3 separate regions of the Homo sapiens genome follow, and all the other regions are linked to region 1. Evidence: fine-mapped expression QTL. A gene starts in region 1. Each other region holds a variant in brackets. All regions are shown on one strand. Distances are from middle to middle.

What was found. PIP is the estimated chance that this variant, and not a neighbour inherited with it, causes the effect.
Region 2: its variant is the best candidate, but not a certain one, in a credible set for the expression of DUSP6 in whole blood (TwinsUK, PIP 0.74).
Region 3: its variant is the best candidate, but not a certain one, in a credible set for the expression of DUSP6 in whole blood (TOPMed, PIP 0.83).

The regions. Positions count from the first base shown.
Region 1 is chr12:89,350,505-89,354,746 of GRCh38, reverse strand. DUSP6 (dual specificity phosphatase 6) reads left to right here and starts at 2,246. Exons shown (of 3, transcript NM_001946.4): 1 at 2,246-3,107; 2 at 3,722-4,159. The coding sequence starts at 2,708. It overlaps POC1B-DUSP6 (POC1B-DUSP6 readthrough), which reads left to right. Exons shown (of 11, transcript NR_189589.1): 10 at 3,722-4,159. RefSeq lists enhancers at 21-70, 3,120-3,754 and a silencer at 991-1,300.
Region 2 is chr12:89,132,438-89,136,679 of GRCh38, reverse strand. No RefSeq gene overlaps it. Among named protein-coding and RNA genes, the nearest start is that of LINC02458, 110 kb to the right of the region's middle. The variant G/C (reference allele first, on the strand shown) is at 2,436.
Region 3 is chr12:89,212,373-89,216,614 of GRCh38, reverse strand. No RefSeq gene overlaps it. Among named protein-coding and RNA genes, the nearest start is that of DUSP6, 140 kb to the left of the region's middle. The variant C/T (reference allele first, on the strand shown) is at 1,973.

The DNA of each region.
Region 1 (4,242 bases):
CTGAAGGGCATCCTGCCTCTTCCCTCCCTGTCCCCAGGTCCCAATGACTGAAACGTCTCGGGGTGGGAACTTCTGTGACAGATCGTGGAGGACAGGGGGAGTCAACTCCAGCGCAGGCCTCCCCCGGCTGAAACTAGAAGATACCCAGTGAAATATACGAGTTTTGTTCCAAGGACTGCCCAAAAATGGTGCGGAGAGGAGCTCGGCAATCCCCACCTTTGTCGAACACGCTCCTCCAGGGGCGGCCTGCCTGAAGCAGAGCTCCAAAATTGGCAACCTAGGCCTCGCAGCCGCCTTTTTTTAGCCTACATTTCCCAAACCAGGGAAGAGGCGGGTGACTAAAAATGCAAATTGCAGCGGGGGTGTTAGCAGGCATGCCCGTGGGTGCGGGGCGTCGGGCGAAGGGAGACCCCGCGACCTTAGGCGCCCTCGCGGTGTTCACGGTAGGCGCAAAGCGCAGCAAGGGACACTCCCCAAAGCCGCACCCCGCCGGACGGCTGCCCCCGCTTCCGCCTCTCAGGCAGCGGTGGGACAAAGCGCGGCCTCTTTTCCGCCGGGGTTTAGGGAGGGAAGGCCGGATTAGGGCCCGCGCCTTCCGGCTGCATCCCTCTCGCGCCGCGCCGGCCGCACACAGGTGGTTTTCCGCTCGGGAGGGGCAGGCTTCGGCACTTTTATATAACAATAGAGCTCTGCGCGCCGGGAACGCGCCTCCCCGCCGCCGCGGCCCCCACCCGGCCACGCCTCCATCCGGCTTCCAATCCGTCCGCCCCGCGGCGCCTGGGCCGAGTGCTGCTCGCTGGCCTGGCCCGCACCTCCCCAAAGTTACCTGCTGGCTTTGCAGCGCGGTAGAGACGTTCCCCTCGACTCCTTGGGAGCGAGGAGCCAGGGGGGTCCCGGCAGGCACTCGTCCTTGCTCCCCCCACCCTCCCCAGATCTCTATGGACCCGGGAGTCCCTCGCTGAGCCCCGCACCCGTCCACTGCGTCGCGCACAGCCCCGTGCCCAAGCGGGGAGACGGGGACGGCGGGGCGGTGGCAGGGAGCGCAGCGCGCAGGCGCGGCTGGTGCTCCCCGGAGTGCCCGGCGCTGGACAAAGGGAGGAGGCGGCGGCAGGAGAGGGCTGGGGAGGCCCCCTCTGACATGCCTCCCTGCCAACTGTAACCAATCGTCGAGCCCCCCTGCCGAGCCCCCGCAGCCTGCAGGTCTTGCGGGAGGACTTCCTCACGCCTCGCCCATGGCGGGGACTGCTGGCCCGGCCCGGCGCGTCCCAGCACACCTCGCTCAGGCAGCCCCGCCAGACCGGCTCCCCCGTCAGAAGCCGAGCTCCTTGCCCAGAAATCATTAACCAGCGCGACCTCCCAGCAGGCGATGGTGGTGGTGGGGCGGGGGGAGAGATATAGATTCCCCCGAACAATGGCTTGTAACTCCCCACGCCGCCGGAGCGGAATACAGTAAAAGCACTGGACTGACCTAAGAGTTTGTTTCTGCACTCTACATTGTTTTAATGAAAATAAAATGTTATTTTAAGAAAAAAGGTTTTCTTCTGATTTTCTGCACAACCAGACGTTTGTTTGTTTGCTTTAAAATGTTTCAACAAAATCCTGGTTTGTTTCGAAATATGTTGGATTAGCATTTAACACCTCATCGGTCACTAAAGCCCAGTCAGTTCACCAGCCCCAACACAGCCTCGGCTAAAAGAACATCAGAGCAAACAGAGCTGGGCCTTTAAAAGTGGCAAACAAATGCCACACACCGCCTAAAGAAGGGGGGTTGGGGGAGGGGAGGGTTAAGGCGAACTTGGGTCCAAATGAGTTTGAAGGGAATACAAAGAACGAAAAGTCAGCACAAGTTTTCCTAAAGCTAGCTCGCGAACGCAAGCGTCGCGAACAAGGGCTTTTGTGCATGCTAATTGCGCCATTGGTGCGCAAAAGTTCCGACGCGAAGTGTGAACTCTCAACAGAAGGAAACATGAGACAACTGAAGTGCCCTGGTTTATGTGCCCTGCTCCTCCTCCGCTGCCGCCTCCCCTTCTTTCTCCTTCCTCCCGCCGAGCCCGCTGTTGCAGCTTGTTTGCACTGGGGCTTATCCGGAGCGGAAATTCCTTTCCGTTTTTGTGAATGACAAACTCATTAACAATTCATCAACACAACCTGTTCCAGCCGGCCCGTCCCCACGGCAACAGCCCCTTCCGCAGCACGCTCATTGGCTGGCCCGGAGAATGTATCCATTGAGACGCTCGCTGTTTGTATCCATTGAGGAGCTGCCTCGCGCAGGGGGTGTGCGAGGCTGAGTCCAAGAGATAGCAAATCGAGTCTTAAATAATCCGGGGAGAAAGACGCCCGGGTAGATTTGAGGTGCAGCCTTGGAGGGAGGGATTAGAAGCCGCTAGACTTTTTTTCCTCCCCTCTCAGTAGCACGGAGTCCGAATTAATTGGATTTCATTCACTGGGGAGGAACAAAAACTATCTGGGCAGCTTCATTGAGAGAGATTCATTGACACTAAGAGCCAGCGGCTGCAGCTGGGTGCAGAGAGAACCTCCGGCTTTACTTCTGTCTCGTCTGCCCCAACCGCTAGCCTCGGCTTGGGTAAGGCGAGGCGGAATTAAACCCCGCTCCGAGAGCGGCAGCTTCGCGCGCGGTGCGCTCGGCCTATGCCTGCCCCGAGGGGCGTCTGGTAGGCACCCCGCCCTCTCCCGCAGCTCGACCCCCATGATAGATACGCTCAGACCCGTGCCCTTCGCGTCGGAAATGGCGATCAGCAAGACGGTGGCGTGGCTCAACGAGCAGCTGGAGCTGGGCAACGAGCGGCTGCTGCTGATGGACTGCCGGCCGCAGGAGCTATACGAGTCGTCGCACATCGAGTCGGCCATCAACGTGGCCATCCCGGGCATCATGCTGCGGCGCCTGCAGAAGGGTAACCTGCCGGTGCGCGCGCTCTTCACGCGCGGCGAGGACCGGGACCGCTTCACCCGGCGCTGTGGCACCGACACAGTGGTGCTCTACGACGAGAGCAGCAGCGACTGGAACGAGAATACGGGCGGCGAGTCGGTGCTCGGGCTGCTGCTCAAGAAGCTCAAGGACGAGGGCTGCCGGGCGTTCTACCTGGAAGGTACGCGCCCAGGGAACTCCGCGCGCGGGGCAGGGCTAGGGGCGCAGGGCTGCGGGCGGGGCGCGTGGATTGAAAATACCTCTGCTCCGCTCAGCTGGAGCTTCGGAGCCGCGCTGCCCGCCTAGGGACCGGCAGCCGGCGAGGTAGGGGCCGCGAACCGCGCGTTCCGCACCAGAGAACCGGGCCGGCTCAGAATCCACTCGCTTCCGGCTGCGGGTACCGGCGGTTTCTTTCTAACGGGTTCTGCGCCTTCTTAGCCAGAACATCCTCCACCATCACCCTGTTTTCTATCGTTCGATTTTGAATTAAGATTTGCAGGACGGGAGAGATTGTTGGGGATGCAAATTGGCACATCTTAGCTCTCAAAATATTCCAAAAAGTTGCCATTTTGTCTATTTCCGGATTCAAGCGAATAAGGGTTCCCTGGCGAGGCGGGCCCGTTCGTTCCATTCCCGATGGTGCACATTTAAAGTGTGTTTCTCTTATAGATGGTTCTGTATGTAGGGGGTTCGTAGGATGCTTGTGGTGTTTCTTGCGCCGGGCTGCGGTTCTTACAAGCTGTGAAAACTACTACGGCTTCTCAGGTTAGATGATTGCTTTTCTCGTTCTGGCAGGTGGCTTCAGTAAGTTCCAAGCCGAGTTCTCCCTGCATTGCGAGACCAATCTAGACGGCTCGTGTAGCAGCAGCTCGCCGCCGTTGCCAGTGCTGGGGCTCGGGGGCCTGCGGATCAGCTCTGACTCTTCCTCGGACATCGAGTCTGACCTTGACCGAGACCCCAATAGTGCAACAGACTCGGATGGTAGTCCGCTGTCCAACAGCCAGCCTTCCTTCCCAGTGGAGATCTTGCCCTTCCTCTACTTGGGCTGTGCCAAAGACTCCACCAACTTGGACGTGTTGGAGGAATTCGGCATCAAGTACATCTTGAACGTCACCCCCAATTTGCCGAATCTCTTTGAGAACGCAGGAGAGTTTAAATACAAGCAAATCCCCATCTCGGATCACTGGAGCCAAAACCTGTCCCAGTTTTTCCCTGAGGCCATTTCTTTCATAGGTGAGACTAATTAATAGTCGTCGCTCTGACATTTAAATGCAAAATTCCTAGCCATTCATAGAGTTTAAGCTGTTAATCGTTCT
Region 2 (4,242 bases), 220 kb after region 1:
TCATTCTACCATTAATTATTTTAAAGCATATATTGGGTTAAAACTGTCATTGGCCCTAGGAATCAGCAAATCTTCCTATAAATTCTGAAGCTTGAGATGTCTTAGTTTATGATTAAAAGTATTTCTGTGTAAGTGGAACTGGAATGCTGTAGGCAGGTAATACTGAATAGAATCTAAGACTGATGCATTCTTCTTGGAGTCCTCATTTGTATTCCATGGCAGAACTCACTATAACTGTGCCATTGGGCAAAACATCTAAGCTGTTAAAATAGAGACTCATGGTGCAGTGGCTTAAACAAAATAAGTTTCTCCCTCATGTGTCTGTCCAGAATAGGCAATGCAGGGCTGTTATATTAACTCTGTTATATTTAACACACAGCTTCCATCTCTGTGTCCAAATTGGCTATAGCAACTCTTCTCTAGCTGGTGAGAAGGGGAAAAGAGGAAGTGAAGGGCACATCTCTTCTAGTTAAGGGCAAAATCTACAAGAACCCTTAACACATCATTTCTGGCTCACAGGTTGTTAGTCAGAACTTAGTCACAAAACCACACCCAGTTGCAAGAGAGCCTAGGAATTGCCATCTAAAGTTGGAAAGCTTTGAACCTAGTGAAAATTTGGGTGGGGAATTATATTATTAATAGTAAAAAGAAGGAGCACATAAATATTGGTGGAAGGCAAACAGTCTTTGCTACAATGGCTTGTTAGAAATTGTGAGTTGGTTTTCTCCGTATCAGAGCTGCTTTGTGGGTGGAATTCACTGTGATCATCTGTGCTGGAAGTAGGGCTCCTTGATAGGGTCAGTGAGGAGGGTCTTTTAAATTAATTTCCTGGTATACAGATCAGGTAATAATATAATCTCAGTGTTGAAATGGATCTTAATTGTCACCTAATTCAACCACTCACCTGAGAATCTCACTGAAGCACCTATCTTTTAGACTTGCCCAGTTTCCTATGTGAAAACTAAGGACATGCACAAAGTCACAGAATTATCAGTGACAATCAGGACTAAATCCAGAGAAACTAGTACATTTCAATTTCCTTCTTTTGTTCCTAGATAAATCCTTCTGAGCTTAGTTTCTATTATGCTATGGTCAGAGAAAAGATATTTGTGTTTATTATAAGCTATAACAGTCTATGTGTTTTTACGGTATGTTAAATGCTATAAAATAATTAAGCTATGATATTGATTTATAAGGCCCTTCTTTTGTTATCGTAACAGTGGGGTCTTAATAGAACATAGGTCATGGTTGCACATAATTGGATGATTATATGTTAGTGAAAAGGATATTGAAGTAGAATTCAAATGACCAGACCCACTCTTGGCTATCTAATATCTGTATGACTCCGGGAAAAATCATTGAACTTCTTTGAGGCTTGATGTATTTTTGAAATAAAGAATTGAGCTAGATGGTAAAATACTTAACCATTAACATAGCACATATTCCAACCAATCAAAACGGATGCCAGTCATGAAAAATTCAATTGGGTGGACTAGTGCATCATGGAAGAATGTCACCCAGGTTTAGTGCTATAAATTTTCTCTTGAACCTCAATTGTACACTGTAAAAAGCCATGACCTTAGCCTGCATTTTTTTTTGTTTGTATCATCCTTAGTACTTACATAATGAAAGAGTACATTGAAGCTTCCATCTGACGACTAGATGTTATTTTTAAGCCTCAAGTTTCAAATAAATATCAGAAAAAGTAATGAACGCCTGTAAGATGGTTCTGGAACAATGAGCAAGTATTGTCTATTTAGAAATCCCAGAGTTTCCCAGGTCCTTCTTTAAAGTAAATTTTAAAACAGTGTAGAGACTGGCTTCTAAAATGGCAAGAAATCCATTTAGTCATAAAAGAAACAGTTTCTAGAGCCTAATTCAAAAACCTGTCACATTTCATCACATTTCTAAAGACCTCATTGCCGAAGAGAGGACAATTGTGTGCCTGTACGTAAGCCTGAATATTATCTTTAGTGAGGCCTAGAGATAAATGTTGCAATGAGAACAGGATCCATTTAGGGTGAATTGGACAGAATAATTCTAAGTTATGGCATTGAAATTCCCACTTCACTTATAAGAATGAGATAAGGCAAAACACTCCAGTTAGTGGAACATGAGCTACTAATTTCCTGAAAAAGACAAAAGGAGGGGAGTGTATTGCTCTTACATGGAAGGAACAATTTTCTTCAGTCTCAGTGCTGACAATGAGAGACTGTGACAAGGGGAAAGTGATAGGAGAGGCAGCCTTAGATCAAAACAAAGAACAATGGAAAGCTAAACAATGACTCTTATCAGTTCCAAAGGTGAGTTCACCTTCCTGGCTTTTGGCCGTCCTGTTCATTGAGTGTTGACATGCCTCCATTGACATGCTTCTAAGAGGGCTGAGTCTGTTCTCTGCATCTGTTCTCTCTCTCTCTCTCTCTCTCTCTCTCTCT[G/C]TGTGTGTGTGTGTGTGTGTGTGTGTGTGTGTGTATGTGTACATGCATGTGTGCATTTTAATTATTTGTAAATAGCGCTTCTTCTATGGTATTGTTTCTTGGCTCCTGAAAAAGCTGTGGTTCTCTTCCAAATGCATAAACATGGAACTATCACCACAATCTCACCTTATGTACTTGAGAATGTGGGAGATGGATATATAAAAAACACTGGATACTTTGTAACGGAAACCAAGTCATCTTCTAAGATGTGAAAACATTAAAGTTCAGATAATCTGCAGAGTGAGGGAAGGCACTCTAATCCCAGAATTTCACTGATTAAGGTAGTGAATCCTAGGAAATATGGCCCAGTTATCCCAGCTCACTCACCTTCTAGACTTTCTAACCATCTTCTTCTCACCTTTCCTTTCACTCCATCCTGGAGGCTTTTACCAGACTTGCAATTCTGCAGCCATGGAAGAAGTGGGACCCTTTATACTAGACAGAGGAGAAGGAGATGAGGTCCCATCATGACCTCTGACAGCACTTTTATTTATCTTTCTTCTAGGACATCTAGAGTGGCTTCTCAGTTTTTCTTCTAAGAGGGCTGATTTTTTGAGGCTTTTAAACGCTGGGCTGGATACAGAATATAGGAAGAAGAAAGGACTTTTGGTACTGTGTTATCAGGCTAGCTGGCCTTTTCCACACCCTGGCGTCCTGAACCCATCACTTTCCTTCTCAACGTCCTTGGATACACCATATTGATGTATAGGGTCTTGTGATTCCTCTGCAATTCTTTTGGGATGAAATGAATTCTTTCTCTCTTTCTCTCTCTCTGCTCTTCCTTCTTTCATTTCTCTCTTAGTGTGCATTTTTCTTTGTCTTTCTCCCTGTACATGCCACCAAAAAAAGTCTTCATTTTTCGTTGAATCACTTCCACATTTCAGAATAATCTTGGGAAGATGTATTTCTATGGGGTAACTATAAAACCTAAACTATCTGTAAGTTCCTCCCTCCTCCATGGTGAAAGTTACATTCTATAATCAAGATGGCTTTGGATCCCTTTCCCATATTATTCTGATATAGTATGTTTCCACACTAGACTGAATCCATTTGGCTAGAAATGGACAGATACTATTAGCTTGACCTTTAGGAGGTAGGATTACAGTTTTATAGGGTAGCTAGGAAAGGTCTTTGAAACATGCATAATGAAGTTGTGGGGTAGAAAGAAAGAAGACTTTGGGATTACTCCACCTTTGTTTCAAATTTCAAGTTTGCCACTCACTGTGTGATATTGGGAAGGTTACTGTAACTTCTTTAATCATCGATTTCCTTATTTGAAAAATAGAGGTAATCATATCTAATATCACAGGATTGTTGAAGTCAAAGCTTAGCCTTGAGAAGATGCCTAATAAATGTGAACACCTCAATTTTCATGCTGACAAGAAAAGCACCAAATCTTATAATCTTCTTTCCTATTAATTGCACCTGCAACTTATTGAGGGCTTACTTTTTGCTAGCCACTGTTCTCAGCATTTTGTCTAACTTAATTCTCACTACAATCCTATGATCTAGGTACTAGCTATACTTCAAGCCGACTAGTGAACAACAGTGGCTGTTGTGGGTTTAAGTGACTTGCCTGAGGATGTCCAGTTAGTAAGCAACTCAACGCGAGAGTTGGACTTGGCTTCTCCCTGGCAAGCTGACTCCAGAACCCTCTCCCTGAACCTCACTCCACACTACCTCCCTATAGCATATATTTCGGGCAAGGATTTTCCTGCACCCAAAAGCAGAATGTCAAAGATACAGAAATTAAAATAACTCTTCTGTG
Region 3 (4,242 bases), 140 kb after region 1:
CAAGCTTCTAAGACAATGTGAGATGAATAGTCCTTTCTTCTTGTTCACAAATAAAAATCTTTTAAAACTAAAACCAATGTTTTCAATGTCAAAGATTGTTTCCTTTTTTGGCTTATCAGCCACCACTGCTTCTCAATAGGTCATTTGCTCTTCCATCTAAGGAAGATTTATGGGACACCTATTGTGTGTCAAGTATTGTGCTAGATCCAGGTCTCTGCCTTTATAGGGCAGGCCCACAATAAGTAACAATAGCAACAAATTATTCATTACAATGCATGCTTTGATAGAGGCATTAACAGGATATATAGGAGCACAGAGGATGGAACATTTAAATCAGAAGCAAGGGAATTAGGAATGAAATTCCTAGTGTAGGTAATATTTATACAGAAGACTGAGGAACTGGAAATAGTTAAAGAAGGCATGCTTGTGGGCGTGCCCTTGCACATTGTGTATGTGGTTTATGTATGGAAGACAGTCCTCAGTGGAGAAATGACAGTATATTAGAAGACACAGAGGCATGATTGGGGAATGTCACACTGAAGTAATTTTATGTAGGAGGTCCCATACCTCCCTAGATCATAATCTCCACAAAGAGAGCCTCTTATTCATCAGTGTGCACTCAGAGCTTGGCACATGATAGGAACTCCATAAATATTTGTGGAACAAATGAATGACCTGAAGTCATAACTTAATAAGTTCAAACTACCTCTGCAAATGATAGCAAGATATTGGTAGCTGCAGTTGGGCTTTACTATGGCTTTTATGATTTTTTCTGGTAACTCAAAAGGGAAGACTCTGCTGTACAACAGCTGTTCTCATCCATTTTCTTTCCTTCACATTAGAATCACTTGTTCTTACTTTGCTAGTAATTATTGATTGATCCGTCAACTCTCTGTTCATGCTGGTGACATATAACACTTGTGTCAAACACGGTCATGGCTCTAAGACTCTCATATGGTTTTTTTTGATAATCCATTGCATCCTCCTAATATGAAATGTATATACTTTTTTTTTGAGGCAAAGCCAACACTGGAATTTAAAATAAATAATATGTATCTTTTTATGTCAAGGTGTTTTAACAGTTATAAATGTTAGACTTGATAACTATTAGAAAATTAAATTGTTAAGTCATAACATTAAAACTGGTTGAATGTTTATCATAAGAACAGTTCTTCTTTTTGCTAATTGAGCCATGGACTAGGAAACGTATGTCAATTTCATAAGCAGAACTTGAATATGTAAATACTTGACACACTGAAAGTTGATAGCAGCTGAGTAGACACTAAGGGCACACTTGATTTTGGACTTAAAAACATCAAAATTAGTAAAAACAAACTACTTTCATTCAACTGGAGAAAATGAGTTTCAATGTAATTTAATATTTAAAAATATCTTCATTAGGTTAGAAGATATTACATTAGAAATAAAATTAGTTTAAAATTTTTTATTTCTTTGAAAGATTAGTCAATTTTACTAGCCAGGTTTTGAACTCACTTTCAGAGGTTTGATCTTTATTATCTTTTGCAGATATTTCCCCAAATACCTTTCTCACTGTACACATCACCTTCTTTCTTTCCAAATTTGCTTCAGTTCATTTCTTTTGGGAGAGCTCTCTGGTGAACCTCACCCATCTCTGATTGCATGCCAACTCTCTGCTTCTGCCAGCTCTCACCCATGTGGCTTTTAATTCATTCTTTGACTTGTTGGCATGTATTTTTATTAATTTAATCAATGTCTTGCCTCTTTATTAAAAAAAGCATTATGCTCATGGCCTTTTGTTTCTAAGAGACAGGAAGCCATTCAGACGTTTTAGTAAAATTTGCTGAAAGGATAGTAGGGCATCTCTGAAAACTTTGGAGGGAAAAAAGTACAACCAGGACATGAAAGGCCCCGGGACTGCAAAATCAGTACCTGAATCCACTCTCTTCTCTTGCTGAACTACTAGCCTCTTGACTCTACTTTTCTCCTCTTA[C/T]GTGCTTAATTGTGTTTTTCATATTTACCACCTTACTCATGGTTGCCCCGCTCCATTTAACTTCTGCTTAGACATAGCTTTTGCTTGAATGGGTCCAGCCCTGACTTTGGTCCTACACCTGTCAATGTGTCCCTGCCACCTTCAAGCAACTCTCATCTCACTGTCTCAGTTGCTAATGCTAAATTCTATATACCCAGGTCAGAGAATCTGATTTGCTGAATTATGGATGGATTCTCCATTGGGTGGGTGTTTTTCCATCAGATTGGGTGCTAAGTGTCACTTGGTACAAGCAGGATGGACTTTCTGAAAATGAATTGTGGGCCACAGGCAATGACTGGCATTAAAGTACAACATTATGTTGTACTTTAAATGTTATGGAACATAGCATCTTTCATAGCATTTAAAGTACAACATTCTTCCATAGCATTTTGATTATTTCAAAAGGCTACCTGAAAGATTGAAATGACTTTAGTGAATTAGAACTGCTGAATTCCAGTGGTCTTCACTATTTTGCACCCCTCCTTAATTAAGAATACTGTTTCTTTCTTCTTAAATGTCTTATTTTCCAGGCTTGCCTCCATACTCTGGTGGGAATCAAGCAATGATAGTTTTGCTTCCTTTAAGTAGATAACGCTCTCAGTAAATCAATTACTCAGATCATCCAGGTAGAGCCTGGGTTCAAAGCCTGATCTCTCTGGTTGCTTAACCATTGCCCTTTCACCATAGCTCTCTGTTTTAAGATAGCTCACATTAGTTAAAAAATAAACAATGAAAAAAAAAGGAAAAGCACAACTCTACAACTGTGTGTACTAAAAGCAAGATTCAAGTATTTTCAACATTCAAAATCATAGTATTTAATTCAGTGAAGAGAGAGCCCTAGAAAAAACTTGTTTCAAGTTTATAAGTTGATCAGGGAAATTTGATTTTTTTTCCACTGACAGAGCTTCTAATATGTGCAGTAGTTTTAGCCTTTGATATTACTATTATGAAATTCAAAAATACTGTTCATTTTGGGCTGGGCATGGTGGCTCACACCTGTAATCCCAGCATTTTGGCAGGTCGAGGTGGGCAGATCACCTGAGGTCGGGAGTTCGAGACCAGGCTGGCCAACATGGTGAAACCCTGTCTTTTCTAAAAATACAAAAATTAGCTGGGTGTGGTGGCATGTGCTTGTAGTCCTAGATACTTGGTTGGCTGAGGCATGAGAATTACTTGAACCTGGGAGGCAGAGGTTGCAGTGAACTGAAATTGTACTACTGCACTCTAGCATGTGTGACAGAGCAAGACTCTGTCTCAAAAAAAAAAATACTGTTCATTTTATTTGTCTTCAAAATGTACCTTGGATTCTTGCCATTGTCACAGGGAACATATAAAACAGCTTGAAATTCTGCCTTATTCTAAGCCTAGCCTAACTCTTTTTCAAGATCTTAAGTAACCAGGGGCTTTTACAAATGAACGTATACCTAGATATGATAATATAAAATTATGGCTTACTAACTTTAGAGATGCAACAAAGAAACAGCTCCTAAATGGGGGTCTGGAGACCAAAATGTCAATTTGGGCTTTGCTTCTTAATAACTATGTGACCTTGAGGAAATCCGGTCTGCTTCTCCAGCCTCAATTTCCTAACCCATGAAAGGGAATAATCAGGCATCATTATGTAAGACGAGTGTTGTGAAGATAAAATAAAATAATCTATGGGAAGCCACTTTGTAAACTGAAAGGTAATATAGAACTGTAAGTGGATATTATTATTTATTTTATGAGCCAGTAGAATTCAAAGTCCTGATTTCATTGCCAGGAGGATTTTCCTCACAGATCTAATTCCTAAAGGTTGGCTTTGCCCAGTTAATGAGTACTTTCCAAATAAAGATCCCTTTTACTGCTTTGATTTTTGTGAACTTCCCTTTACTCTGATTCAAAGTCACATGGGAAGGTGCTCTTGTAAAGCCATTGTTTAATTTAGACTTTTCATACTGCGTGTATGTCCGGCTATTCTCTGGTTTCAGTCTCCAAGGAGCCTTTGAGGGCAGACCTTGCTTCTTTCCCTTACATATAGTTTGGCAGCAAATGAGATGTTTTCAATAGGGATGAAAAAACTCTCAGTATGTAACCTGTCACCTAAAGGAAGGAGGACATCCTGTTCTAAAGAAGTTGCCTCAGAGCCGGCCCCAGGTCCACCCTGGTGTTTCACTTGTATCTCAGGCAGTAGCCTGGGATGAAATTTTAAGGAGAGAATTGTTACATGATATTGTGTAATAGCAATATGA